3 separate regions of the Homo sapiens genome follow, and all the other regions are linked to region 1. The links come from fine-mapping of genetic effects on gene expression. A gene starts in region 1. Each other region holds a variant in brackets. All regions are shown on one strand. Distances are between the middles of the regions. Region 1 holds the start of SKI (SKI proto-oncogene). Region 2 holds the start of LOC124903824 (a long non-coding RNA gene). Region 3 overlaps SKI (SKI proto-oncogene).

Region 1 (9,858 bases):
ACGGCCGCTGAGCTGAGTGAGGGGTGTCCCAGAAAGAAACTCTTGATGCTGTCCCTTCCTGTGATCATTTCAGCTTAAAACAGCAAAGAGCAAAACACAACTCCTCCCCAGAGGCTCTCCAAGCCCAGCAACCCCTTCCTGGCCTCCACAAGCTCAGTCATTCCCCAGAACAGACCTCGAGACTCAAAGGTCTCAAGCCCGACCACCTGGCTGGGCACCTGCCTGAAGAAACGCTGCCTGGGGCCAGGGGCAGCCTTGCAGTGACACGGGTCAAAAGCCAGCATGAGGGATCAGAAAACCCCCGTCGCGGACCCTCCACTGGGAAGCGCGCAGAGCTTCCCAACCAAGCGACCCTCAACCCACAGCCCACTGAGACCCACGCCAGCCCACACAGCGCAAGGGCAAGGGGACCTGCAAGACCCCTGGGAATTCAGGCATCTGCAGGACAGAGCAACAACACTGTAACACAACCCAAATTCTCCAGTCACCAGAATGCCCAGACTGCACGTGGCAGGTGAAGAACAGCTCTCACACAGGCAGCCCACCGCCCCTAGGAACAGGACGCCCGGCCCCCTCGGAGCAGGACCCCCGGCCCAGAACAGGACCCTGGCCCCCTCAGAACAGGATCCCGGACCTCTGGGAACAGGACCCCCCCCACCAGCCCTGTTGGAACAGAAACCCCGGCCCCCTCGGAGCAGGACCCCCCCTTGGAGCAGGATCCTGCCACGGCCCAAGGGAAGCACGGCACCACCCTGTTATCAGCCTGCACGGAAAGCGCTTGGCTGACGTTCTGCGGGACAAGGGGCCGCGTCCCAGGCAGCAGGCCAAGCGGCAGCTCCAACTGCCACATTTTGTCTCCGTCTCTGACAGCTGTCTATACTGACAAAAAAATGTAGTCCAATGGAGTCCTACAGCTATCAGAGAACCCGAGGAAGGAGGCGAGCCGACCGGAAAGAAGAAAGAGGGGTGGGAGTGGGGAAGGCTCAGAGGCTCCAGTCTTGGCTAAGTGCTCCCAGCAGCACAATGACCCATCTGTGCCCCACCTGTACCACTCAAAACATAAAGTCCAAGATCAATAAACAGTAGTCCCCAGTTTACACTGAGGCAGAGAGGTTAAGCAACTCGTCCAAGGTCACAAAGCCAGTGTGGGACCGAGTGGGGAGGTGAGACAAGGTCCCCTGTCAAGGATAGCAGCCCCAGGGTCCCTAAGAGGAGACTCGCCAAGCACCCATGCAGCCCACATGGTCTTCCAAGATACAGCAGCAGGAAGCTGGCCGGGCCCGACAGCCACTGGACAGAAGCGGAGGCTTCCTCTGTAACCCCGTGACATGAGGGGGCATCTGGAGGAAGACTGTCTGCCCCTCATGCTGCCACTGCACTGCCGACAGGCCAGAGGCTCAGGCACAGCCGCTGTCACAGGAGGCTTCCAAGGAGAAAGCTGCAGCCCTGCCTCCCACTTGGTTTGGGACCCGGGAACATCTCCGCCCTCTCCCACCTCCCACCATGGGTAGGAGAGTGGCGCTGACCCAGCCCACTCAGGCAGGAGACCCGACCCTGGCCTGGCCACAAACACCCGGAAGGCAATTCAGCCCCCTCCGGCTCCGCAGAGCCCGAAGGCCTGCTGGGAGCAGCAGCCCTGCAAAGAGAGTTCCAGTACATTCTTTGTTCTGCCCTCATCTTCGGCAGATCAAAAATATTAAAATAAGCTACAAAGGAAGTGAAGAAATCAAAACATATCCCGAGAATAAGCTGTCAAGACACGAGTGGGAGGAGCCAACGGCGGCCAGTGAGGGCGGAGGCGGGGCCTCCCAGGCCACTCCTTCTAGGACAAGTAGGGTCTGGGCACTGTGGGTCCACGCCCACCCTGAGACCACACTCCCTTCTCATGTGTCGCTCCTGTGCACACAGAGACACGCACACGGCTGTCCTGAGGAGACTTAAGGGGACCCTGAAGCCCAGAACTCCCAAGTGCACAGTCACAGAGCCTAAAGGGCAGGCACTGAGCGAGGGCAGAGTCCCTGGCCGCCATCCCACGTCAAGAACATAGAGCAGGAGGCAACACGGGCAGGATGGGTGCCCCACCCCCAGGAGCATGAGGAGAGGAAAACCCGCAGGAGCTGGTGAACATTCAGGGAGCCAGGCGGAGGACACCACTGCCAGGGCCAGGCTGTGTGGCTGCCACTCAGGCCTAGAGGACGCAGTCACTCACACCGTGCACGTCGTCAGTATGGCCTGGGAATTGCTTTTTAATCGGTAAATGAAATTTCAGAGCAGTGCTGGGGACTTCAAAAGGGAAAGGCGGCTCGGAGGCATCCGCTGAGATGACCAGAGCCTGTCTGGCCTGTCTCTATGGCGGCCCAAGGACCCCGGCGCTCACAACCACAGGGAGAGAGAAGCCGGGTGGCCTGGGCCCTGCTCTGTGTCAGCTGTGACAACGAGGCCCCACTGGCCACTCCAATGGGCCCCCAGCAAAGCCCAGGAAGACAGAAAGACCACAAGCACACACATGACCCACAGTCGGACAAAAACAAACGCAGACACACCCTGCTCAACCGAGATCCTCTGCCATCAGCTCTGAAGACAGTGACGTGAGCGTGTCCCAGCAGCTCAGGCCTTGGCCACAGGTGACCCACTACGCAGCCTGCACGAGCCCACAATCCCCCCCGACATGTGGCTTCCTCCAGCCACAGGCACTGACGAGGGTGCGGCCACCCCAAAAAGAAAGGCCCCAGCCCACAGGGAGCGCCATCGGGCCCACCCCAACCAACTCCCCGTGTGACACGAAGGGCCCCAGCCTGCTACGTCTGTCTGCAGCTCTGCCACGAGCATCCTTCCCCAGCCCACAGGTCTGCAGGCGGCTGCCACCTGAGCCCTGGCCTGGCAGGGTCAGAAGCGCGCACACACAAACACACACATGCACACACACATGCACCCTCCGCAGCCCCCTCCGAGCAGAGGCGACAGTCCCTCGCTTCCATCCACAGCCCCTCCTCCCCACGATCTGACACTCTGCTGGAGGGGCGCCCAGAGAAAACCGGGCTGGAGCATCTATTCACAGATTTAGAAAAAAAAAGTTTGATGCAATAGCTGAATTAATTAGGCCTCCCAAGAATAGCTGAGCCAATGCAGCATTCTGTGTGTGCAATTTAATAAGCCTGGATATTTAAAAGAAAAGTTACAAATACTTGGGGAGGTACGCAACGGAAAGTTCCTGAGGACCCCACTGAGTAATTTCGGCACCTCGTGGCCTGGGAGCTGCCCATGCCGGATCCCATAGATCCTCCAACTGGCAAACAACAAAGCCAGGCCAGCAGCCTCCCTCTCCGGCGCACCCCTCTGCGTTTCAGAGGGAGAGAAGGAAATGGGTGAGTCCAAAGCAAATCGCAGGCCGCCAGTAACTCCAGCACGCGGGCCCAGGAGCCTGCTGACCAGGCCCCTCAGCCGGGTGCCAAATGGCCCTCACCCCACACGGCGGACTCTGGGATTTGGTCCCTGGCAGGCCCAGGGAGACCAACCAGCACAGTGCTGGAGCCGCCAAGTCTCGGGCCCCTGCCACTGAAGCCTGGACACCTGGCTTCATTTTGTGTCTGTGTCCCAAAACTTCAAGGCACCAAACAGGGAGCGGGAGCCAGTAACAAAACCAGGCCTCGCCTCACCCAAGCTCTGTCTCCTGGGGCCCAAAGGCAGGCAGCCCTCCGTCTTCGAGGCTGGGTGCCTTCGGGGCGAGGACAGCCACCTTCACCCCAACCCCAAGAAAGACCTGGGCCTGAGGCATCCGGGCCGTGGCCCAGCTGGACCTAACTTCCCTGACCTGGGGCAGGCCGCTTTCTCGGGAGCATGAGGCCTGTGCCTTCCTATCTGGGCAATGCCTGTGGGCCTGCGGGCCTTCCCCACACACCAGGCCTGGCCCCCCACCCCACCGCCACAGCCCGCACTCCAGGCTCGTCCTGGGGAACGGGCAGGAGGGCCTTCCTACCAAACTCTCTGGCCCTGCCAGTCGGAACACTCTGAATTTCCCTAAAACAAAGCGAAGACTGGAGACATGGGGCACGGCAGAAGCACAGGTCCCAGCCTTCGGAGACCAGAGCCTGTAGTCCAGAAGGGGCCCCCACCCCAAGCGCATCCTCCCCAGCTCCCAGGCCTGGGGCCACTCACCCGGGGCACCCGCCGCTTGTACTTGTTGCCATAGTCGAATTTCTCCTTCACGTCGTCCAGGCAGCGGCCGAGGCGCGCCTGCTCCTCCTTGCCCGTGTAATCCTGGCTCAGCAGGATGTAGGCCCGCCAGTTGGCCGAGTCGAAGCCCCAGTGGCAGGTCCGGTTCTCCAGGGCCTTGTGCGAGTGCACCACGAACTTGTGCGGCGGGTACATGAGGCGGCAGTCCAGGCACTGGATGCAGGCGGCGCTCGGGCTGCTGTAGAGCTCGGGCACCAGCAGCCCCTTACACTTGCCGAAGCACTCGTGGTACACGCGGACGCTGCGCTCGCTGAGCTCCAGGCCCAGCGCCAGGCTGGCGGCCAGCTCCTTCTTGCAGGGCGGCGGGTAGGCGCCGCCGTAGAGCAGCGCGTTGCACAGGCGCTCGGCGTCCGTCTTGGTGATGAGCCCGCACGAGGGCGCCGAGAAGGGCAGGATGCCCATGACTTTGAGGATCTCCAGCTGGTCGGCCGTGCAGCGCGAGCAGTAGATGTGGAGCTCGTCGCACACCGCGTTGATCTGCTGCAGCGAGAAGTCGCGCAGCACCGAGTTGAGAATCTGCGGCAGACACAGGCGCTTCTCGCCTCCCACCACGAAGCACGAGATGGTCTCGCCTTCCAGTACGGTCTCGCAGCGCTCGGTGGAGCGGTCGGACGGCATGAAGAAGGGCCCGGGCAGCACGGGCGGCGGCGGCTGGATGGCGGGCAGGTGCAGCACGGGCGGCGGCTCGGTGGCTGCGGGCACCGGCGCCGGCACCGCGGCCGCGCCCGCCTCCTTGGCGCTCTCCTTCTTGTAGGCCTCCTGCGCCCAGCGCGCCGAGAAAGCGGCCGGGCCGCCCAGCGAGCTCATGGAGCTCAGGTGGAACTGCTCCAGCGTCTTCTGCAGCCCCGGGTGCGGCTGGAAACAGCCGCGGCCGCCTGCCGCCGCCTCCATGGTGCGCTCCGGCTCCCCCGGCCGCTCCCGCTCCCGCGCGCCCGGGCCCCCCCGGCCCCCGCCGCCGCCCCGCGCGCCCCGGCGGCGCCCGCGGCCCCGACCCCGGCCGCCCCCCGCCGCCGGCTCACGGCCGATCACGGCCGCGGCCTCGCCCGGGGGCGCGAAGGGGAAGGCGGGCGGGGCGAAGGGGTCCCGCCGCTGGAGCCCGCCGCCGCCCGGGCCCGGCGCCACATCCACGCGCCCCGCGCCGCGCCCGCCGCCGCCCGGGCCCCCCGCGCGTCCCCCGCGCGCCCCCCGGGCTCTAGGCGCGGGGCATGCCCCGGCGCGCGCCGCCAACGCCAACGCCAACGCTCGCGGGCCCGGGGCTCGCGGGGGGCGCGCGGGCAGGTGCCGGCGCCGCGAGGCGCGAATCGCCGCGGCGGCCGAGGCCGAGGGGCCCGGGAGGAGCGGGGGCGCGGGCGCGGGGCCCGCCGGGCCGTCCTCGCGCGGCGCGCCGCCGCCGCCCCGCTCCTCCCACCGCGAGGCGCCCGCCCGGCTCGTCCCGGCGGCGCTGGCCGGCCGCGTCGCGCCCGCCGCCGGCCCCCGGCCCGCCCGCCCGCCGGCTCCGCGGCCCGCCCGCCCGGCTTCCGGGGCGGCGGAGGCGCCTCTCGCCCGCGGCCCTCAGAGCGCGGCGGCGGCGCGGGGCTCGGGGCGCTCGGCGCACATCCTCCCGGCGGCTCGCTCCGGCTCGGACTGAGCGCCCGGCGCTGAGCTCACGCCGCCGCCGCGCCGCCCCGCCCCGCGCCGCCCGCTCCGCCCCGCGCCGGCCCCGCCCCCCGCGCTGTTTGTTGCCGTGCGTCCGCCTCAGCCCTAGCGCTGGCCAAGAATGTGACCCGCTCCCCAGCCGGGCTCTTCCAGGAACGCGCGCTCCCCGCCCGGACTCGGCCGCGCTCGGCTCCGCTCGCCCGGGACTCGGCCACGCTCGGACCCGCCCTGCCATGACTCGGCTCCGCTCGGCCGGGACTCGGCTACGCTCGGCCATGCTCGACTCCGCTCGGCCCCGCTCGGCCCCGCCCGCCGAGGGCCGCTGGGCGCGGGCGGAGGCGGAGGCGGCGGTGGCGCCCGGGGCCCCCCTTCCGGCCGAGGCCGCTTCCTGCGCCGCTGGGAAGGCGCCCGTCTCGCCGCCGTCGGGGCCCAGAAACCCACAGGCCCCCGCCACGACCGCAAACCAGCTGGGGGCGGCCGGGGGGCCACGCCACGCACCCGGGGTTCTCCCAGGGTGGGACACCACACAGCGGGGAGGCCCCGGACGCCTCTGGGGTCCCACACACTACCGGGACGCCACACGGTGACCTGGGGTCCCACACACGAGGGGGACAGCGGCCACGCCCAGGGACCCTGCGCCGAGACGGGCACCGCGTCGCGTGACCCTGGCGGCGCAGCCCGGCGGCCCCCGCTGCGCCGTGGCCGGTGGCTCGGTGGCCGAGTGTCCGCGGCTCCCGGCCGCGCCGGCCCCGCCCCGCCCGCCGGCCCCTGGCGGAGTGTCCCTGCTGCGCGGGCCGGGGGCTTCGGGCCTGGGAGGGGCGGCGCCCGGTGCCCCAGACGCAGCCGGTCTGCCAGCCACTCCTGCCAGGTGGCTTATCAGGACTTCGGCCCCGCGGGGCCCGGCGTTCGGGCCGGCGAGACCCCTGACCTCCGCCCCGGGGCCGTGGAGCGCTGAGACGTCTTTCGGGGTCGGATCGGCCGGCCCTCCACGCCTGGCCACGCAGTGGGAGAGACTCAAGCCTTGGCAGGGCGGGGAGCGGGAAGCCCGGGGCCCCGAAGTTGGACAGTCGGCCGGGTGGTCTCCAGGGGAGGCAGCTTCCAGCGAGGCCTGCGGGCGCAGGGACGCAATGGTGTGTTTGGGGAGGGGCAGGGCTCGGTCTGTGCTCGCCTGAGGCGGAGGGACATGCCCCACGGGCCGGGGGTGCCCAAGCTGGCCTGGGTGCTGGGCGGAGGCGAGAGGGCCACGCCGCTGCAACCTGAGTGACCTTCAGCTGGGACCTCCTGCCCCTCACTTCCCCAGTGGAGGCTGGAACCTGCCTCAAACCAGCACTCCTGGGCGCAGTTCCTATCCTGGGGGAGCCGGCCCGGAGTCCCTGTGCAGGTCTTGGCCGGACCTGCGGCAGGGCAGGTGTCTAGAGAGGCAGCCAGGACCTACCTGTAGGTGACCCCAGGGCGGCTCCATACTCCCTCTCTCCGCTGCCTTGGGGGTTGTCTCCTTGTCCTCACACTCCACACTGTCCCCCGACTCTTCCCATTCACTCCGTTGGCCCCCACAATTGGAGGCCAGGCTTTCTCTGTGTGTTCACACACCAGAAAGCTGGGTAAGAAGATCATTTCCTTAAAAGTGATATTTAACCCGGCAAGGTGGCTCACGCCTGTAATCCCAGCACTTTGGGAAGATAAGGCAGGCGCATCGCTTGAGCCCAGGAGTTCAAGACTAGCCTGGGCGATATAGTGAGACCCTGTCTACAAAAAATAATTTTTTTTTTTAATTAGCCGGGCATGGTGGCCTGCACCTGTGGTCTCAGCTACTTGAGAAGCTGAGGTGGGAAGATTGCTTGAGCCCAGAAGGTTGGGGCTGCGGGGAGCCGTGCTTGAGCCTCTGCACTCCATCCTGGGTGATAGGGACACACCCTTTTTTTGAGACAGACCCTGTCTCAAAAAAAAAAAAAGGGTCAGCCTCAGTGGCTCATGCCTGTAATCCCAGCACTTTGGGAGGCCGAGGCAGGCGGATCACGAGGTCAGGAGATCGAGACCATCCTGGCTAACGGTGAAACCCCGTCTCCACTAAAAATGCAAAAAATTAGCTGGGCGTGGTGGTGGGCGCCTGTAGTCCCAGCTACTCAGGAGGCTGAGGCAGGAGAATGGCGTGAACCTGGGAGGCGGAGCTTGCAGTGAGCCGAGACTGCGCCACTGCACCCCAGCCTGGGCGACAGAGCGAGACTCCGTCTAAAAAAAAAAAAAGGATATTCAGTCCAGACGCAGGGGCTCACGCCTGTAATCCCACCACTTTGAGAGGCTGAGGCGGGTGGATTATTTGAGATCAGGAGTTGGAGACCAGCCTGGCCAACATGGTGAAACCCCCTCTCTACTAAATATACAAAAATCAGCCGGGCATGGTGGCACATGCCTGTAATCCCAGCTACTCGGGAGGCTGAGGCAGGAGAATCGCTTGAACCTGGCAGGTGGAGATTGCAGTGAGCTGAGACTGCACCACTGCACTCCAGCCTGGGCGATGGAGTGAGACTCTGTCTCAAAAAAAAAAAAAAAAAAAATAGAAAAGGGACTTATTTGTTTTCCTGGAGATAGTTTCGTTGGCCCACGTTTTGGACAAAACACAGCTAGTGTTGCACTTGACGTTGTCACTTCCTTCCATCTGGATTTGAATTCCATACAACTCAGTCAAATTGTAACTCAGAGAAGGTGGTTGCAGCCAGGCCTGCTGGGAAGTGTCTCCAATCAAGCAGAGAATTCCTCTGGCTCCTCTGGTGGACCAGGGGCTCTGTGCAGGGCCCCTAGCATGGGCAGTGCCCACCCAGAGCCTCTGCTTCCTTCTGTGCCTCTGGCTTTGCAGGGTCCTAGCCAGGGACCAACACTTTGTCCAGAGTGCGGACCCCTGGGAAGTAGCCATAGGTGTGCCATGGAGTGAAGGTGCGGGGACAGGTGAGGGCCTCCAGTTGGTCTCTGAAGCTACCTCCACCTTTGTGGACTCTTGAGACTTCCTTCCCCCAATATGTCAGAGCTTCCAGAGGAAGGCACCCACCCCACCAAGGGTCAGAGCAGCCACGCCTAGAGGGAGCCACCAGGGTCCACTTTTCTTCCTGAGCTTGGCAGGGAAGAGGGTGGGGGGTGTCTCCCGCCTGCTGGCCTTCCACCCTCCAGCCCCGCCCAGCAGCTGCCCAGGCCAGTCGCCCACGCGGGCCACCATACTGGCAGGCCGCGGGTTAAGGCTGCAGGCACAGCCACAGCGCGGAGTAGGGTGGGATGGACGTGGTGCCTGCCCAGAGAAGCCCTGGCATGCGGGCAAAGGCAGGGACCTCCCAGCTTTCTCCCTGGCCCCTACCACGGTGACAGGCTTGGTCAGCTAGTCATGAGTTTGTCCCCTTGTTCGATGAGCTCCTACCACTGTAGACACTGGGATCAGGGTAAGGAGACCAGGTTGTACCCCGTGTGGTTCCATTCTGGTGTGAGAGACAACAGTCAATCAACAAACCTGCTAGTACGGGAGCGAGATCTTTCAGATCCCCAAAAGGCGCGGAGTGGCTGGGGCTGGCTGTAGGCAGGGAGGGCCTCCTGGGAGGCTGGCCTTGGAGTTGAGACCCCCACCTTAAGGAGCCAGCAGTGTGGAGATGAGTTGGATGGCGCCCCAGGACCAGAAAGAGGAAGACACTGGCAAAGCAAGGGGTACCCCAAGCTTTGGGGGAACTTGGAAACCTTGGTGGGGAAATGCATCGCAGACCAGCTCTGCTCCACCCTGCCTTGCCCTGCCCTGCTGCCACCCACTCTCTCCTCCTCAGGAAGCAGAAGGAAGGCCTTGTAGCAGCCAGGCATAGACTGCCATTGGCAAAAACATGCTCAGTTACTGGGAAAGAAACCTTCAAATGTGAAAATAAAAATTGCTCAAGTAACATCAGCTTCGTATAATTTTGTTTTGTTTTTGTTTTTGTTTGAGATGAAGTTTCGCTCTTGTTGCCCAGGTTGGAGTGCAAT
Region 2 (9,858 bases), 86 kb before region 1:
CCCACACCAGACCCATGCCCCCTGATGTTTCCCTCATGCTGCTGTCCCCGGCCCTCCCACAACTAGCACCGACCTCCTTGCGTTGCGGCCAGACCCACCCTCCCACTGTCCAGGCGCGCTTCCCTGGGAACACACCCATCTCCCAGGCCAGCTGCGGCCGGGGCATCTCTCCAGACCTGCACAGGGAGCTGCTCCTGCTCGGCGGAGGGAGGCCGTGGACAGAGGAGCTGCGTTCACAGCAGTGCAGGAACCCGGGGCAGCCCCTGGGCACATGGGGTGAAGATCCACCCAGAAGCTGGGATGCTCCACGGTGGGGGGCCCTGAGGAGCTCTCAGGGAAAGCCTGGTTGGGGCCAGGTCGGGCGCAGCGTGGTGGATGCACTGAAGGCGGCCTGCTGCCCGGGGGCAGAGGGGCGGGCGGGGGGGCATTGCAGGGAGGAACCAGGCCGGATCGCGGGGTGCCGAGTCCCCCATCCTTGGAGGTGACAAGCTGGAGGCCACTGGAGCTGCAGCGAGGGGACCCTTCCTCTGCCAGGGCAGAGTGTCCCCAAGGCCCCCTGGGTCTGAGCTCTGCCACTGGGAGGCCGAGTGCATGTGGGGGGCTCTGGCATCCCCGAAGCTTCCCCAGACACCCAGGCATCCATTCCAGACAGCAAGGCAGGCAGCCACTCTCCCACACCTTCTAGAAGCCCAGAGCCAGTGGCAAGGCTGCGTCTCCCAGCTGCGGCCATCCTCGAGGCTCCCAGAGCCCAGGGCGGCTTCATCACAGCCATGGCTCCAGCCTCTGGTCCCTGGGAGCCCCGTGAGCGCCTGGCGGTTCTGACACTGCCCCTTACCCTTGGGGTTGGCTACGCCCGTCGGAGGGGAGGCTCCTGGCCTGCCAGGCCTGCTCCGACCTGGGTCACCAGCCTCCCAGGAGGCCAGGCAGACATCGGCCAGGCCGGGCCCACAGAGGAGCCCCCGTGAAGGACAGATACCACCGCGTCACGCTGACCCTGATCGCTGCGTGTGAGCGGCGCTCACCTGGGCCTGCCCCTTACATTTGGCAAATTGCTCTGTAGCTGTTTTTCACTTCAGGATGAAACCACATTTGTGTCAGAAGAAAAATAGAAAATGATGTTTCAATTTAGAGAAAGAAAAATTGCTGGGAACAGCAGCAGCTGCTGGGTTTCCAGTGTGTTGAGCGGCGTCCTCTGGGATTTAATTCCCAATCAGCAGCCTCGGCTTTCAAAGTCACAAAACCCACGACAGGAAATCCAGCGCTGTTTTCTCCACACGGGTGCGGCGGATGTGGGGATCTGCACCTCGGGGGGCTCCTTCGTGGCTGACAGGTGCATCTTGCCGTCCATCGAGGCTGACTTTTCTGTAAGCTCTCTGCAAACACAGAAGCCCGGGGCCGTCAGCTTCCTTGGTTATCACAGCAAAACCCCGGGCAGGCATCGGTGTCCCCTGTGCTTGCTGCCAGGGCCACTGAGGGCCCAAGAAGGTGGCCAGGTGGCTACCTGGCCATGCTCCTCTCCCCATGCGCCACCCACCAGGACAGGCCCTGGGGACCCTGGGAGGGAGCAGAGAGCCGTGGCTTCCTAGGGCTGCTGGCGCCTCTCTGGCCAGCATGCCTGGGAGCTAACGGGCAGCCAGCCTTGGAGAGACGCAGCGCCTGGGCCTCGCCTGGACTCCCGCCCCGGCCCCACTCACCCTACTCCTCACACCACATCCCAAAGTTAAAATACGCAGGAAATTTGAATTCTTTAAAAAAAAAAAAACCACTGCGGGAGAGAGGCTCTGTGGAGACAGCCTTGTGGCCACAGACACGACTCTGGAGGGCTGGACGTGGGGTGAGGAGCCGGGCGGGAGAGGGAGGGACTGCGGGGCGCAGCATCCAGAGACCAGGAGTGGCGAGGCGGCCGCAGGCCAGGCTGCACCCAGGGACAGTGACCCTCCCCTCAGACTCTGTTCAGGCAGCCCACCGTGGGGACAGAGTCCTCGGGACCCGCCACAGAACACAAGGCCTCCCGCGTCCCTTCACCCTGGCTTCTGGGTCTGCCAGTCCCCATGGCCCTGGGGAGGCCACAGAGACTGGCCCGTCTGTCTGGTCCAGCTGACCTCCTGGGCAGAGTCCCAGGACCCCTTGCTCTCTCGGGGTGGGGAGGAAGATCCTGGAAGGAGGACGCAGAGCCCCCGACACGCGTCTCCCACCAGCACACGCCCCCACTCCGGGGTGTGCCCGTCCCCCTGTGAAAGATCCTTTCCCATCGCCTGCCCCACGCAGGCCAGAACCAGTCCCTGAGTGCCGAGCCCGGGACGGGGTCAAGTGGAAGGATGGGGGCCCGTGGGCTGACCTCGGCTCGCCTGCCCCTGCTCACTGGGCCTGCGTCCGGGACTGGGCGCTGATTCCCGGGCAGCAGCCTCACACCCGGCACTGGGGCCTCAGTGAGTGGACAGACTTGCTGCCGCCGAGCAGCGTCCCTGCGCTGAGGGCGCGGGCCGGGGACAGATGTGGTCCCAAAGGCCTGGAGCAAGTGGTGACGGCCACCAGCCCCGCCCACGGCAGCCATGGTCTCCCAGGCTTCCCGGGCCTCCTCTGCGTGTCAGGGGGAGGGCGGGCAGCTCTTGGTGCTGGAGGTGGAAACACACCGGCTTTGGGGCCAGGGTGGCCATGCCACGTGACCGTCTGACTGCCAACACAGCGGGACATGAGCTGGGCTGAGGCCTCCTCCCAGGCTGGGCAGGGGCTCTGCTGGGCTCCTCCGGACCTGGTGGGCATGGTAGGGGCTGTGTCTGCCTCTGGCCTGCAGGCCACGGCCTACTGGTGCCACCCCTGGGAACCTGAGGCCAGGGACCAGGTGGCGGCTCTCTGGCAAGCTCACAAACACAGTGTGTTGGAGGTGGAGCCCCCAACCCCAGCCAGCCCCTTCTCCTGCCCCAGGAAGAGTCCTGGGGAGAGCTCCAGGTCCCAGCTCCGCCCACCTCCCTGTGCCCCTCCTACCTCCCTGTGCCCCTCCTGTTCCTTTGACCTCCAAACAAGGGAGCAGTGGCCATTCCTCCTTTCCTCCCACCCATGGTTACCAAGCGAAGATGACACCGAAAGAGAGCATCAAGCCAGTTGCTGCCATGGAAGATGGAGTCTGTGAGCCAGAGAAAGACAGAGATACACAGAGAGAGGCAGACACAGAGAGAGTCAGAGAGAGACACACAGAGAGGTAGAGAGACGGGGTGGGGATGGGGGGGGATGCCTGCCTCACCCCTTCAGCAGGGCCTCAGCCAGGACACCCTCCAGACCATGCCCAGGCCCCTTTGGCATTAGCAGAGGACAGCGTAGCCAGGCCACAGCCGGGAACCAGACAGGACCCACCTGACCTGTGTCTCCTTCCCAAAGCCTCTCCCTCTTCGCTCCTGGTGCCTAGCGGAGGGTCGAGACCCCTGTGCAGAGCAGCTCCTCGCAGGCAGGCCTTCCTGGAGGGCCAGGTGCCCAGCCCCATAGGCAGGTTCCTGCACAGCCTGGCCTGGCCTTCCCTGGGAGCCTCAGGCCTGGGCTGAGTAAGCCAGGAGTCGCTGGGCCTGTGGGCTGGCTCAGCAAGACCACAGCTCAGCAAAGTGCGCTCGGGGCTGACCACAGACCCATCAGCCCCTTCGTGTCCTGCCTCCAGGCCCAGGGGCAGCCGGCGAAGGTCAGGCCCAGGGCCTCCCGGATGACAGAGCCCCCAGCTGGGGCTTGCAAGGGGAGCTGCCAGGCCCAGGGCTGCCGGCCCTTCAGCGAGCCCTGGGGAGTCTGCCTGGGGCCAGGGTGGTGCCTGGCTGCCCTCTTGTCCTCAGCTTGACCTCTGGCGGTGGCACTCGTGAAAATGCTGGACACTCCTTCTCCTTGTACTTCCACCTCCCGCCCACGGCAACCAGAGCCAGGAGCCAGGCTGTGGGGGCTCCGAACACAGCTCCAGGGCCAGCAGGGCCTCCTCAGTCTGTGGCGCCGCCTTCCTGAGGACCCGTGGGGAACAGAGGTAGCTGCCCACACCAGCCCCCCAGCCTCCTTGGCTCCTGAGGTGGACCACAGCCAGGGAGGGCCCCCCAACAAGGGTCCAGGCCCTGCCCACCCCTGCCTTACAGCCCAGGAGTCCCCAGGGGGCAGGCCAGGACTCAGCCCCAGCTCTCTCTGCCCCTGCGCCCAGCTGCCCAGCCCAGTGGCTGCTCCCTGGAAACCCCTCGGGGACTGCATCTTGGCTCCCCAGTGGCCTCAGGGAACCAGCAGCCGTTCTCCGGCCTATCTGCAGCCAGGCCCCGTCCTGGAGACCCTGTCCCGCTGCCCCAGACCTGACCCCACTGGGTCCTCATCCACCCACACGTCGAGCATGTCCCCTGCTAGGGCCCCACCTGCCGGCTTCCATCTGGGGACAGGAGAGAGGACACGCATGGGCTCCACGGTCCTGCCCAGGCAGAGAGAGGCAGGCTGAGCACCACGGGGCTGCTATACCCCTGATGGGGTTAGCGGGAGGGGAGGCTCAGTGCCTGGGAACCTGAGGGCATTTCCTTCCACGGAGCTCCAAGCAGAAGCGGCCTGGGGCGCAGCCAGGCTCCCTGCTAGGAGGGCGGGTTTCAGGCCCACAGCTCAGAGCATGGGTGGGGTGCCTGGGCTGGGGGTCCCTGGGCTGATGGCCTGAGGGAGATAGGAGGCCAGGCCTGCAGGGAGCCAGGGGGCCCGTGAGGAGGAGAGACAGCTCTAAGCGGCAGGCCTCGGCGAGACCGCCTGTGTCTCATGGTCTCCTGTGGTTGGATCCACCGAGTCCCCCAGGTCCCTGCGGGTTGTGGCGAGTGGGCTCACGGAGAGAGGGCGGCCTGCGCCCACCTCCCCAGCAACGACTTGGCGGCTGGGGCCTGCGGGCCGGGATGGGGGGTGTGGTGGTTCTTCCCGGGAACGGACCCCCAACTGAGCAGAACAGGGAGGCCGCGCCCCAGAGAGAAAAGCACCCGAACCCGCCAGGCTGGGACCTTCCGGGAGGGCAGGGTTGGCAGGGACCCCCCAACCCCGAGCTCGGCCGAGCTGCAGTTCCCGCTTCCACCGCTGGGGGTCGCACCGCCGCCCCCGCCCCCGCCCCCGCCCCCACCGTGCCGCGGGCGGCGAAACCCGTGAAACGCGCGCCGCCTCCGCGGGGCCTGGGGTGGGGAAGGGGGGACGAGCGGGGGAAGAGGGGTACGGGGGGGAAGGGGGAACGGGGGGGGCGCTTCCTGCCGCCGCCCTGCTTCCCGCAGCGGCCTCTGGGGGCGGCCGCGCCCACCGACGGGAGGAGCCGCAGCCTCTGAGACCCCCGCACGTAGCCCGCCGGTTCGGGGGCGGAATTCCCACCTCGGGAGCCGCCCCCACGCTGCAGGAAGCTCCCAGGGCCTCCCGTCCCGCCCCCCAGCCCGGGCCTGCTGCTCGGACCAGCCGCCCCCGGGCCGGAAGCCCCCGCCCCACCCCGCCGGAATCCAGCGCTGGCCGCGAATCTGGGGGGCGCCGCCCCGGACGGCAGGGAGGGTGGGGTAG[C/G]GGAAGAGGCGGCGGGGGCGGGGGGGAAACTGAGGCTGCGGGGGGGAGCCTGAGGCTGCGGGGCTGCCCCTCCGCGTGGGGAAGTGGGGCCCGGCGCGCTCCGCCTGACTCGGGGCCCCCAGTGCCCCCGGACTGGGAACGGAACGGGCGTCGGGGAGGCCGCCCCGGCCCTGAGGACGCGGCGCGGGGCCCGGGACGTGCACCCCTCCCCACCCCCCCAGCGCGGCTTCCGGCCCGGGCGAAGGAGCGGGATTGGGAAGGTTTCGGAGCCGGCGCTGGAATTCCTGGGTAGTTCCTCCGCCACCGCCCTTCCCCCGCGAGGCCGGCCTCCGACGGGGCCTCTCCAGGGTGAGGGGCAGGCCCTGGCCTGGAGCCAGAAACAGGATTTCCCCGGATGCCAGGACAGCGCCAGGGCCGGGGACAGGCCGGGGCCCCACTGCGGGTTTTCTGTCCTGCGCAGCAGTGACCCCGCAGACTTCGCGCACGGGGCGCAGGATGGGGTAGGGGGCCCAGAGCCTTGGTCTGTCGGACCCTCAGCGGCCAGCGCAGGTCGGTGGTCATTTCGGAGTTCCGGCCACTGTCCTGTGCAGGAGTGACCCTGGAGGCCGCCTTGGTTTGGCCTGGGAGGATTCTAAACACGGAGGGGCCAACACCGAGACCCGAGAGACCCCGGCCTAAACCTGACCCAGTGCCGGCCACACCAGCCACGGCCCTCCTGGCATCCCTGGGATCACAGAATGGGACAGCCTCCCCACCCACAATCCCCCCAGGCCCTGGCGAGGGCAGCTCCTCCGACGCTACAGCCTTTTTCCTAGGACTGTTTTTCCTTAGAAACAGGAAGCTGGGGCATGGGCATCACGTCCCTCGGGTGCAGGCCCCACCAGGGGCAGGGCAGAGTGGGGCTGGACCACAGGGCACACAGTACCTTGCCCAGCTCCTGCCCCAGGGTGGGCACAGCAGGGCGCAGGGCGGTGTCCATCTGCAACTGGTAGCCTGGCCTAACCTGGGCATAGCACCGACCAGGGTCATTTCACCCAGCTGGGGGCATCTCCATGAGGGAGGACACGCAGAGCTCCATCGTCTGTCCCTGGTTCCTGCTTGCCCTCCACCAAGACCCCAGCCTGGCCAGGCCCACCTTGCAGGAAGGGCCAGAAGGTTCCGACAGCAGAGAGGGGGACAGGGCTGTCAGGGAGAATCTGGCAGGGCCAGGCCAGGGGGGCAGCAGCTGGCACTGGCCAGGGTACACGGGACCCTCCAGGGTTCGGGGCTGGTGGCCTGCCCGGCCCCCACCAAGGCCTCTAGACGGCCCTCGACCCTCCACACCCCTGGTCTCTCGTTCTAGATCTGGATGGCACCCAATCCTGGTTTCTGGGCTGAGCTGGGCAGCCAGGAGCCCACCCTTCCAAGCCAGCCAGTTGTATCTCCACGGGGCCTGGGCACTTGGCACCCCTATACCTAAGAGTGTCCTTGGGACAGCTGCGGGGAGGGGCAGGAGACTGGGAGACACTGCTGCCTGGGCTGACCCAGGGAGCCCCTGCCTCCAGCCCCTACCTCCCCACCTCCCCACGGTTCCCTGTCCCTGGAAGTTTCTGGAACAGGCCTCCTTTGCAGGAGGAGCCATGGAGGCCGAGCCTGGGCTGCACTTCTTGCCAGTAAGAGCTGCCAGGCCCGGCCATGGGAGAGAAAGGTCCGTTCCCAGCCCGGCTGGACACCTGGCCCAGCACAGGACACTGCAAAGACAAGCCAGGCTGGCCAGGCTGCCCCTGCCGGTCCTCACCCGCAGCGGGGCCACCTGCTCCAGGGCTGGGTGCCCCAGCCATTGAGGCCCCCACCCACCTGGCACAGGCCAGGCACAGATGGCCATGTGCGTCACTGAGACCGGGGGGTGGCAGGGCTGGGCGGGCATCCAGTCCCCAAATGTTCTGTCCTCACCCCCTCCCCAGGGTCCGCTGTGGGTGGAGTAGACAGGGCAGTTTCTGTGGGGAGGGTCGGGACCCCCCCGGGGCCAACACATCAGGGTCACGACCCCATCATTTCTGGAGGGCAGGCGGCCCTGGCCTGGGGGTGTCCCTGTGGGCTCCGCACCTCCTTCCAGCGGAGGCTCCGTGGGGTCAGAGGCCGGGTCGCCTGGAGCAGGACCAGCAGCTGTGCAGAGGCTACGAGAACAGAGTGGGTGGGGGCTGCCTCTTCCTGGCCAGAAGGAAGTGGGGGAGTCAAAGCAGGTGCTGGGACGTGGGGGTGGCCAGGCCTGGGCCAGGATGGGGTCGGGGTCTGGGCCTGTGGGCTGGGGCAATGGGTAGAGCCCCTCATGCAGCCATGAGGGGGTGTCCAGCTTGGGGGCCCCTGGCCATGCCCTTGGAGCACTGCGCTGGGGCAGGAGGGCGGGTTGGGGGTGAAGTGAGGGAGGAGCCGGGTCCCTGCTTAGGCTTAGGGCTGGGGCCGGACACGCGGGGCTGAACCAGTGGCTGCAGTAACTGGTCAGCAGTCTCCACTCCCCACCTAGGACGTGCTGGCCGCTGCCTCCCCAGACAAGGTCAGGCTGCTCAGCCGTTGTCGGCCCCCTTGACCACAGGCTGGTGGGTGAAGGCTGGCAGGACTGTGGCTCCAGGAGGAGGGGGAGACCAGCACAGCTGAGACCTAAGGACAGCTGTTGGTGACTGAGGCAGAAATGGGTGGGGCACAGGGTGGGGCAGAAACTAGGGAGGTGGGGGAGCCCCCATCCCCTTCCCTGAGCTCATCTTCCCCAGACCCCAGCTCTTGGGGGCTTGGGAACAGGCACTGCCAGGAACAGGGGTACTGGGAGCTGCCCTTCCAGGGAGCTGAGGCTGGAGGGCTAACCCGTGGTCCCTGCAGAGGCCCAGGCAGGTGTGAATGCTGGGAGTCCTGAGCCTGAGGATGCAGAGGTAGGGTGGGGAGGGCCATCTCTCTCCCCCCACCTCTGCCCTCCCCTGGCATGGAGGCAGGGAGCTTCTCCCACCCAGGCCTCCTCTCCCCCAGCACTCAGGAGACCCCTGGATCCCTTCGGAACAGCTTTGGGAAGAGGGTTCTGACCCTGGGTGACGGCTGGCCTAGCTCAGCAGGTGGCCAGAGCCCTTTAAAGCTCTAAGTTTATACCCAAAGGTAAACACCAAAGAGAAGCCTGGGGCAGCTTGGGGAACAACTGAGCCCAGAGCACCGCCCCTCCCTGCCCCCACGTGGCTGCTGGAGGCAGTGCCTTTGAGTCTCCGGGAGGGTCGGGAGGGCCGTCATCAAGCCCTGCGGTGCTCAGCTCCGAGGCAGAGTGCCCATGTGGCCACAGGGACGGTCCTCGAGGCCCACCCAGGACCTCGGCCCAGCCCTTCCCCAACTCCTCCCCACTGCACTGGACCCCGGGCTGGTCCTCTGTGCTCACAACTGACTCAGTCTCAGGGTCCTGCCAGCGGCACTCTGGAGCCGCCCATCCTCTGCCCCCCAGAACATGCACGTGCCCAGGACCAGTCCACACCCACTCCTGCTGTGGCCCATGTTCCCCTCGGCCCACGCCCCTGCCCACTGCCCCCAACACCCAGGGGCCTAGCCTGGATGGAGAAGCCAGGCCCATGTGGAGTGGGTGTTTTGAGGCCTGCTGGGGTAGGCCTGTGTGGTCTAGAGGCCGCCCTGTACCCTCCGTGGGGGCTCTATGAGCCCTTTGGGGCCCTGGGCAGGGAAGAAGGAAGCCCCTATGTGGCAGTGAGGGGAGGGCCAGGTCTGCTCTAGCCCCAAGCTTGGGGGCACTTCCCGAGGGGTGGAGAGAAGAGATGGGGACCTGGAAATTGTGCCGGGAGGCTGGGGGGAGGGGCCGGCTGGAGCCCCTACCAGCCCATGCCTTTCTCGGACCACAACCCAGATGACCTATGAGGGCCTGGATGGGCTGGAGATGCTGGATGTGATGGCCTAAGGAAGCCTAGAGAGGTGGTGGCCTGGCACCCCAGGGAGCCCACCCGGGGCTGTGCCTCCATGAAATTGGCATGCGGCATGGCACCTCCAATCCCCAGAACAGGGGTCTGGGAAGGCCCCCCTGTGAGGTCAGGTGGGGAGAAGGGACCTCTGTGTCTCCCTCGGGGCAGCTCGCTGGGGTCCAGGGTTCTGATGCCACCTCCCCTCTCCCCCGCAAGTAACCCAGGAGCTCCTCAGGGAGCTGGCGATCCACCCCTTGGGGACAGGTCTGTCCGTGCGGGAGCTGGACCTTGGCCAACCGCAGGTGCGGCCTCAGAGGCCCCCGTGGAGGCCCAGCCGGGAAGGCCCCATCCCATCTTCTGTCCTGGCACTGCACTCTGTGGGGCTTCCTCCCAGCCGGCCCAAGGCCACGGTGGCCTCAAGCCAGGG
Region 3 (9,858 bases), 70 kb before region 1:
AGGGCACGCGCACCCGGGGAGCCCAGGTCCTTGGCGGAGCTGGATGAGGTAAAGGACGGGGAAGAGAGCGAGGACAAGGAGGAGGTGACTGAGGAGGAAGCAGAGACAGAAACAAAGTCATGGAAGTGCCCGGCAGCTCCACACCAGGGAGACGCGCCGCTCCCGGAGGAACCTGCGAAACATGGGGCCACCAACGCACCCCCGGCGACCAGCCCCCCTCAGCCAGTGCCACCCCCACAGCCCACAGGGAGGAGGCACAGAAAGCGACTCACACGTACATTCCTCCCTGCTTTCAACTTCCACCTCCGCCTCCGAGTCCTTGTCCTCCTCTGGGGCAGCCACGGGCGCCAGCGTCTCTGGGGCTCCTGGGGTGTCCACAGTCAGCTTCCGCTTCCGAGGCTGGGTGCAAGTGGCGAGAGGCTCGGGGGCCCGGGAGACGGCGGCGGCACACGGAGGGCTGCTCACAACCTTCTGCTGGGCCGGCGGTGCGAGGGCCACGTTGGGCGCCACGGCTGTCTCAAAGCTCTTGTAGGAGTAGAAGCTGGAGGGGCAGGCGGGTGTCGGGAAGGTGCCTCTGTCCCCAAGCACCACCCAGACACATCCTGGCGCACACCCCCTCTGAAGGTGTTAAACAGGAAAGACTTTCCCAGCTCCGAATCTTCAAGTCAAGCTTACAGTTCCCTAAGAACCCGTAAGCGTTTTCTGCTTGCTGGGTCTCTTGCGAAGGCCAGACACAGGCCAACACATCAAGAAGCTGCGCCCAGCAGACAGGGCTCCACCCACGACTCCACCCAGAACACAGGGAACGCTCTAGGTGTGCTCTCCCTGATGCCAGCCAAAGGAACCAACACCGAGACTGCCCTGACCAAAAGGCGGCAGGTCTGGGCACCCAGCCTGCAGAAACATGGGCGCGTCCGCATGCACAGCCCTCGTGGAGCCTCCCCCGTGATCAGAAACACCTGTGAATGGCGCCCACTCACCTGTCTCGGATGAGGGCCGGGAGGTGTGGGGAGAGCTCTTTCTCACTCGCTGACACTGCGGGGGACCAGGGTCGGAAAGCAGAGAGGCGCTGGCGAGGGTGAACACAGCCCAGGCTCTGTCGAGAAAGAGTTGTCTGTGTGAGTGACCAGGAGAAAAACAAGCCACTTCATGTCCCTGAGGCTGCGCCGGGTGCCAGCCCTCAGTAGCGGGCAGGTGGAGCTGCCAGCCGCTGGGTCTGCCCAAGGAGAAGGGCCCAGTACCCACCACCCCAAGGACCCCGACAGGCCCCACAGCACCTTATTGGAAGAGCCGGCCAAGGTCCGCAGCCAGCTGGACGGCTTGTCCTTTTCGGAAGGCGCGGGGGACTGGGAAGAGGTGTCATCTGTTTTGGGTCTTATGGAGGCCGGAGGCTCAGAGGAGACCTGCGATCAATGAAAGGTTTTGTTGGCACCTGTGGTTCCCAGGGCAGGGTCCCTCCACCAGCCCCGTGGCTGGCACATGGCAGTCAGAGCCCCATGCACTCCGGCCACAAACGACCCTGAGTGGCGCAGAAGGCAGATTCCAGGGCACCCCCCAGGAGACCAAGTTCACTTTGCATAAAGGCCCTTAGGCCACGCGCAACAGGCACGTGGAGGCTGTGCTGAGGGACAAGTCATCTCCGAGAGAACAGAGTGGACCTTGTCCTGCCATTCCGGGTGACCTCACCCACGGCTGCAGCAGGTTTGGGATGGAGCACCAAGACCCACTCTCCCCTTCCACAGCGGCTCAGCCTGGCCAGGAGTCCCTCGTCCTTCTCCTGCCAAACCCCTTTCCTAGAACCCGAGTGTGTCCTCAGAGGGTGCCCAGCGCTGGGCACTCAGCTCAACCAGCCACAGCACGGCGAGAGCCACTCACGACGGATGCGTCTGGGAAGGGCAGCTGCGGCACAGGGGTGGTCGCGGGGAGGGGACACCGTGTCCCTGTGGGCCACTGGCACAGGTGCATTAAAGAGTGGGCATTCTGGCTGCCCCCTCCCCATGGGAAGGAAACATTTTCAAAATGAAGGACACCATCCCCAAGGAGCCTGGCTCCTACAGGATGGCACCACACACACCTTTGCCTCGCTCCTTGCCAGCCCCGGTGCTGGAGGAAGCTTAGCGAAGGTGCCCAGACCCAGCCCACCCAGAACCAGGTCCCGCTGGTGGAGGAAGCTTAGCGAAGGTGCCTGGACCCAGCCCACTCAGAACCAGGTGTTGTGTGTCAGGTGCTGAGGCACATCCCCCAAGAGCCAGTGAGTGATGTGGGTTGTGTGCTGGGGGCCTGAGCCGGTACATCCAGCCTCAGGCAAACGTGAACTCCCACAGCCCTGCGGCTGGAAACCCCTGAGACGGTGCTGCCCGCAAGGCACAACTGAGACCCAAGGTCTCTTCCCAAGCAAAATCACAGGGCAGTCTCCGTAAAATGGGCCATTCCTCTACTGCCAAAGACCCCACAGGACAGCACAGAGTCTCCAGGGCAGCTGGCACCAGGTCTACACCACAGGCCAATGCAGAACAGGCCACACAGGGCAAGGGGCCCTTCACAGGGGTGAGGTCCCACTCACTCTGCCGAGGCCAACCTCAAGAGGAGGCAGCAAAGTCGGGCGGTGGGGGCTCCGCCCTTGCCCTCAGCCAGGAAGCCTTGGTGGACAGAGCACACTCAGGGCCGGGGGCTCTTCCCACCTCCAGGACTCTAGGAGAAGACGCTGCATCAGGAACCAGCCTCCTGGAGGCAGCAGGGACCCTGCTTCCCTAGGGGGAAGATGGGGCGCAGGGCAGGCTGTCCATCAAGGTGCTCCAATTATGGGGATGGAGGGCCCTGGGGGAAGATCTGGCCAAAGCCCGTGGCCTCCCCTGCAGCACGTGCACCCACCCTGCAGCCCTCAGGGAACAAGCAGGGTGGGGCCAGGGGAGGGGCAGGTGCCTGGCTCTGACCTGGGCCCAAGGGAGAAAGATAAGTGCTCGGGCGCACAGGGCCGGGGACGCAGGGCAGGCAGCCCCTGAAGGCTCACGGCTGTGGATGGTTTTTTTCAGAGACACTAAAATAGCTGTTCAGGAAAAAAGACACTGAAAATACCCCCTCTATGTGGCGGCTTTCGAGGGGAAGTGAGTGTTGATGACGTCTGGCGGAGGCCCTGACCGCAGGGTGCTGTGCCTATGCCTGGCAGGGGCGGGTGCCATCCTAGCTGCAGCAGAGCCCCTTCCGGAATCATGCGGACCCTCCCGAGAGGCACAGAAGGCCGAGGACGCCCGGCTGGGTGGAGCTTCCTGTCTAAGCAGCCACTGAAGCGGGCG[C/A]GGAAATTCGGCTCAGTTATCACCCGGGGAAAAGCCACAACAGCCGGCGCTGACTCCGGGAGACTCAGAGACTCCTTGAGGGGAAAGAGTCAGATGCCTCAGGCCACCTCCATGAGAGCCAACGCCTGAGAACACGGCTCTGCCTGGTGGGGCCCCAACAGCCGCCCCGTGGAGGTGGCGGGAGGACCGTAGGCCCGGGGCCCCGAGCCCAATCCGCTCAGTGGGGGGTGGCCGAGGACCCTGCAGATCTGGAGGGTTGAGGCAGATGGGCTCAGGGCCATCCTTGGGGCCAGGGACGCTCCTGGTCTTCAGGGAGCCAGGACGAGCCTTCGGAGACATGACTCCGTTAAGACCCCTGCCGACCCCTCATCAGGCGACTCCCGGCTCTCAGGGCGGGCTCTCTGCAGCATCAGAGAAACGGAGAGAAACGTGTAAAATAGAAGGTGTCTGCGCCCCTGTGGGCGGAGGAAGTGACACTCTCAGAGGGACTGTCACCTGAGCAGTATTGGTTTCTCAAAGCCCCAGGAAGCAGACAGCCGTCTTCAGGCCTGGGATGCCACCCGCCCTACCAAGGCCCCTGGGGGCCCCAGTGTCAGCTGTCGGTCAGGGACAAAACCACACCCAGTGACAGACGGCTGAGTCTTACTCTGGGAAGAGCAGCTACGACCGCTTGCCTCTGGTGTGACCCTTCCTGGGGCTTCAAAACCCGCCCTTGGAGCCCACAGGCCACGAGGCAGGAGCACGGCTCTGGACCTGACACACCAAAGCAATGGGGCTGGGCCTGGATAGGCCTGCAAGGGGCTGCCCCATCCCAAAGCCCTTCAGGCCACTGTCAGCTTACACAGCGGAGGCCAGACGACACACCGCGCTGCCCCGCGGCCACTTCCCCTCCTGGGGTCCTTCCCCACACCCCGAGGATGACCAGGCAAGCTACCTGGCCAGCAGGCACCCGGGCAACGCGTGTGAGCTTGCACCCAAGGACAGGTGCCCCCCTGCCAGGGCAGGGCAGGGCTGGGCTGAGGAATAGCGGGCCCAAGACTGTGGACACCCTAGGCCCTCTGACGGAACAGTTCCTGAGCAAAGCCCACAGGACCTATGCAGAGGCGGTGGCCCAAACAGGTGAGCCAGCAGTGGATGCCTGCCGAGGACTGGGCAGCCACAGTACACTGCCACAAGCAAGCCACCAGCTCCCCATGGGGGAGTCTCAGAAAAGACGCTCTCCAAAAATGCACACCCCACCCTTGGGGGCCCTGCGTTTCAGGCCTGTAAGGTGCCAGGAACAGAGAAGAGCCATTGAGAAGGCCTTGGGGACCCTTTCCTGCCTGACACGTGCAGATGCTCAGGGCGAAACGCTGGCCCATCCCCTGCAATAAGGAAAGGGAGTCTGGAGGTCACAGAACTGCCATCTCCCTTCCCCAGGCCCCTGGCACAACATGAGTGGGGGCTGCTTCTCCTGCCAGATCCCACAGGGTCCAAACACAGAAGACCTCAACCCCCCAGAGCAAGGAGACGCTCCATGTCCCCTACCCTGGCAGGGAGGCTGGAGTCCTGGACAGCTGCCGAGGGAGACGCCGCAGAGGCGGAGGGCACTGAATCCAGAACCGAGTGCAGCAGCGGTTACAGCTGGCCTCTGTCCCCAGGCACCTGAGCCACTCCAGACAGGCTGAACCCAGTCTGCACATGTCCTAACAACAGCTCCTCCCAGGGCACCGAGAGCCCGGGTCGTCAGCTGGGCCACTTCCCCCACTGTGGCCTCAGCGCCTCTCACTTCCAGAGTCCGTGAGGAGGACATGGGCACAAGCTGCTGCCCCGCCTGCCCGTGTGGCCCCCCCCCTCCCCGAGGCAGGGACAGTCACTCGGGTCCCCGAGCTGATGCCCACAGCTCCGGGCCTTCTCCACACTGAAGCTGAATGACGGGGCTCAACGCCGCATCCCCGCCCTGCTGGCCACTCGGCGCTGACGGTCGCTTCCTTGAACCTTCTGAACACTGGGGTCTGAGTCAGCCTTTGCTGAGAGAATTCACACCCCAAATCCACACAAAACAACCACATAGAGCCTGCTGTGAACCTCCACGACCACCCGGCATCCACCCACCCAGGGCTCACAGGCACCAGCAGGCAAGGCTCCACCCAACTAGAGAAGGCAGCTCCCACACCAGGACCCCCCAGGGCAAGACTCCGGGGAGGCGGGAGTGAGTAGTGGGCAAGCACCACAGGGTGAGCTCTGGGCACCAAGGAGCCCACGGCCTGGAAGCTGGCACACGCGCCCGCCCACCACAGGCACATTCTTGCTTTTGACTGATGATCAAAGAAGGCCCCATTTGGTGGGCGCGTTGATACAGCAGCCAGGATCGGCCACGTCTGTCTCTGAATGTCTGCACCTCACCTGGGATGTGGTCTGCCTGGAAGCAGCACCCAGACCCCAAGGCCAGACAGGCCTGCCTGTGAGTTTTCAGCCTCCCCTTAGACTGGTCTCTTTGCCCTCATTGGTAAACGGGACCCCGTATTAGGGCCAAAGGATACAAGGGGGAAACAGGACCCGGGCAGGGTCCCGCCTCTGCTCATGCTGCCTCAGGGAGCTGCTGAGAAAGCCATCCGGCCCGGGGACAGGCCACGGCCACACCCCAGACCATCCTGAGCATGGGCAGCCAATCCAGGAGCCGGGGACCACACCTGCTCCAAGGGAGAGGCGCACAGCAGCAGCCATGATGATGTCAACACAACTCCCTCCAACCCCAGGGACAACCACAGGGAACTTCGCAGAGTGAAGAAAACCAGTTTTCTGTTCAACTTGCAGCCCAGCAACCTGTCAGGAGGGCACCAGCCTCAGTCACCCCGGGACCCCAGTGTCCAGCGGCCAGTGTGCCCTCAAGCCCCCACGAGGGCGCGCATGTATCCAGCTGAAACAGACATTGAGGCCTTTGTGACGCCGGCTTCACATGTGAACAACGCACAGTGGCAGAGCGGTTGAGCAGCCCACAGGTCAGTCCAGGGGCCACCACCAAGCTCTGTGGGTCAGGCTTCCGTCTCCACACCTGCATGGATGCTCGGCCCATGACCACCCGGTGTCAAAACTGCACTCTGGTGCGGGGGGATGGACCCACAGCTTGCGGCTACACCCCAAGGCCTGCCACACAGCACAGCCCACCCTGCAACCCCTCCCGTGCGTCCCCTCAGCGTCTTCTCCTGCCAGGCTGCAGCCACGGGGCAAGGGGACCCTCCAGGGGAATGCATGCGCCATGGGAGTGGCCAGTCTCAGACCTGCCCATGCACACCGGGCGGGCCCACGCCTCCTCTCCTCAGCATGCAGCATCCGCAACCAGGCACAGCTGCCATGATGGGAACTGGAGGGAAATGTGCGGCCAAGGGCCGGGAAGTCCTGCAGACGCAGATGCTGCCTCGCAGGGTGAGTCCGTGAGCGCCAATTCGTCTCTGTACAGGGGCCACGGGCTTATGGAGGGGATGGCTGCCACCAATAGGCAACGCTGTGGAGTGGCGCAGATGTTGTAGGCACCAAGAAGCCTCCAGAAGCTGCCAGCCACAGTCCACATGGTGGTGCAACCCTGGGGCCACAGCAGGTGGAGCGGCAGGATCGCCCACAATCTGGGTTCCGAGGAGATCGCCTGTGCTGGTGTTCTGACATTCCCAAGAGGCCGCCCACAGCGTGGTGAGCGGGCTGGGCACTCGAGGTCCTGCCTGTGGCCCTGCTCCTGAAGCACATGGCCCAGCAACACTCTGCTACGCTGAGGTTCTCTTCGGTGTGGCTGAAAACCCGTCTGCTATTCCTTAAAAGGATACAACCCAAACTTCAGCCGTGGGCCCGGCGTGGTGGCTTATGCCTGTAATGCCAGCTCCTTGGGAGGCTGAGGTGGGAGGATCACTGGACCTCAAAAGGTCGAGGCTGCAGTGAGGTATGATCCCACCACTACACTCCAGCCTGAGCAACACACTGAGACCGTGTCTCCAAACACAAACTTTGTGGTTTTCAGACCATCTTGCCACATTCTTCAAGTGGAAGACGGCCTATGCCCACACCAAGAGCCTGTGCGGGTGCCTGGCACCTCCATTCAGTATTTTCAAGGGAGGCCACCAATTCTCACCTGCAGAGGCCACGGGCCTTGTGGGAACAGCACGGTATGCTCTCATGTCCCTGGCTGCAAAGACTGTTTCTGTGCACGGCCTCCTTAAACCATTTCCCGGACTGAACCGTCTGTAGAGCCGAGGCTGCGAGCGCACGTGAAGGTTTTCACAGCAGGAACGTGGCGGCCTCAGTCCAGACTCCCGCCCCCGCAGAAGTGCTTCCATGACACCAAAGCACAAGGAACAGAGAGAAAACACAACAACAAGGCTTCCCAGAAAACAATCACGACGTCTTTGTGCTTCAAAGGACACCATCGAGAAAGGGAAAAGACAGCCCACAGGATGCAAGGGAAAACGTGCAAACCCGGTAGCTGGTAAGGGACCAGATTCAGAACACATGAAGAACTCTGCAAGTCAGCAAGGAAAACACAAAACACAACCCAATTTCCAAATGGGAGAGAATTCGAGTAGCCATTTCTCCAAACAGGATACTAACATCCAGTAACCGCATGCAAAGCTGCCTGACATCATTCACTGTGGAAACGCAATCACACCGCAGGGAGACGTCAACTCACGCCCACAACGATGGCTAGAACTGGGTTTGTTTGTTTTTGAGACGGAGTCTTGCTCTGTCACCCAGGCTGGAGTGTAGTGGCACGATCTCAGCTCACTGCAGCCTCAACCACCCAGGGCTCAAGCAATCCTCCTACCTCAGCCTCCTGAGTAGCTGGGACTACAAGCATGTGCCACCATGCCCAGCTAATTTTTTGTTTTTTTTTTTTTGTTTTTTTTCCTAGAGACAAGGTTTCACTTTGTTGCCCTGGCTGGTCCTGAACTCCTGAACTCATGCAATCTGCCCACCTTGGCCTCCCAAATTGCTGGGACTACAGGCATGAGCGCCTGGCCTAGAATTTTTTAGTTTGGACAAGTGTTGGTGATGACATGGAGACACAGGAACCCCTATGCATTGCTAAGAGGAACGTACAATTATTTAGCTGCTGTGGAAAACAGTCTGGCAGGTCCTCGGAAGCTTAACACAGTTACATCGCCCAGCAATTCCAGTCCTCGGCGTACACGCAGGTTACTGAAAACACACATCCACACGACAGCTTGTGCACAAGTGCTCACAGCAGCAAAGTGCAGCCACCCAAGCATCCAGAGACAAATGACGGGATAGATTGTGGTCTGTGCAGACAATGGAGTATGATTCAGTCATGAAAAGGAAGGAAGGAGCCTTGAAAATACTGTGCTGAGGCCGGACACACACAGTCACACGTGGCCTGGACACATAGCCACACGTGGCCCGGACACACAGTCACGTGTGACCCGGACACAGTCACGCATGGCTCTCATACACACAGCCACGCGTGGCCCAGACACACACACAGTCACGTGGCTCTACTTCTATGGAATGACCAGGACAGGCCAATGGCCAAGATCAGTGCTGGCTGGGATTTGGGGCCTGGGGAGTGACGGACCATGTGCATGGGGCTTCTTGTTGGGGGTGACAAAAATGTTCTCAACTTAGATGATGATGGCTGCATATACTGAAAAACCATTAAACCATATTCTGTGGAAGGAAGAATTTTATGGTACGCAAATTATATCTGAATACAGTCTTAATTTTAAAAATCAAAAATATGACAGTGAATTCTTGGTCGAAAGCCAAACTGTCAAGGTGAATGGTTTTCACTGCAGCACGGCCCTCAGAGCCAGACAGGATGAGATGCCTGGGAGCCAGAGGGGCGCTCGGCTGGCATGGATGCTGCCATGACATGCAGGGGCAGCTCCTGGCGCAGGGCTGCCACACTGGCACACCTGCGTGGACACACAGGACACCAGGAAGGCTCCAGGTCTGAGTCTTTAGCAGCTGTTCAGGGTCAGGCAGCGCTCACCTGCCACAAAGCCCACAGTGCAACTTCACCTCTGGAAGCCTAGTTTTTCACCTTCTAAAGCCCATCAAGAACAGAAAGCTCCATCTGAGCCAGGGGCCTGACATCCACTTTAGGGAACATTCTGGTCCCTGTCACCAGGGGCATCCCACAGAGCCCTGCCACCACCCTGAGGTCAAGTCTCCTTTCCAGAGGGGCCCCACTGGGTGGGCGTGGCCTCCAACCCAGGCACAGGGGATGGCAGTAATGATAACGTGGAGGGTGGATCCTGCCCTGCTGTGGGAGTTGCCTGGCGCAGACCCCAGCCCAGGTGCCAGGAGACTGGCAGACGGGGGCCTGAGGGCCCTGGGAGAGCAGGTGGCTCTCGGGGAGACAAAAATGTGAGAAGCAGCTAGCGGGGGGAGGGCCAGGCCCCCAGAGGCCTCCCTGCCATGGGGACAAACATGCATAGCCATCCCTGGCAACCAGCACCTCCCACAACTTCTGGGCAAGACCAAGGGGCTGGCATCTACGTGGACCCACGTTCAGTGGAGGACGTGACAAGGTGGCCCTGGGCTTACCGGTTCCCCGAGACAGCTAACGGGCTCAAGGGAG

Evidence for each region. PIP is the estimated chance that this variant, and not a neighbour inherited with it, causes the effect.
Region 2: its variant is fine-mapped to the expression of SKI in whole blood (TOPMed, PIP above 0.99).
Region 3: its variant is fine-mapped to the expression of SKI in whole blood (INTERVAL, PIP 0.99).

Annotation. Positions count from the first base shown.
Region 1 is chr1:2,224,033-2,233,890 of GRCh38, reverse strand. It overlaps SKI (SKI proto-oncogene), which reads right to left and starts at 5,572. Exons shown (of 7, transcript NM_003036.4): 1 at 4,156-5,572. The coding sequence starts at 5,124. RefSeq lists enhancers at 2,644-2,693, 2,340-3,001, 6,831-7,651, 9,006-9,506 and a silencer at 5,742-6,511.
Region 2 is chr1:2,310,505-2,320,362 of GRCh38, reverse strand. LOC124903824 (a long non-coding RNA gene) reads right to left here and starts at 5,368. Exons shown (of 4, transcript XR_007065362.1): 1 at 5,335-5,368; 2 at 4,365-4,417; 3 at 3,352-3,971; 4 at 1,095-1,373. RefSeq lists enhancers at 4,302-5,055, 6,536-7,189 and silencers at 4,927-5,216, 5,367-5,526, 5,617-5,736. The variant C/G (reference allele first, on the strand shown) is at 5,515.
Region 3 is chr1:2,294,523-2,304,380 of GRCh38, reverse strand. SKI (SKI proto-oncogene) reads right to left here. Exons shown (of 7, transcript NM_003036.4): 2 at 1,278-1,403; 3 at 981-1,096; 4 at 279-541; 5 at 1-88. Among named protein-coding and RNA genes, the nearest start is that of SKI, 71 kb to the right of the region's middle. RefSeq lists enhancers at 3,163-3,222, 5,462-5,973, 5,974-6,485, 9,846-9,858. The variant C/A (reference allele first, on the strand shown) is at 3,294.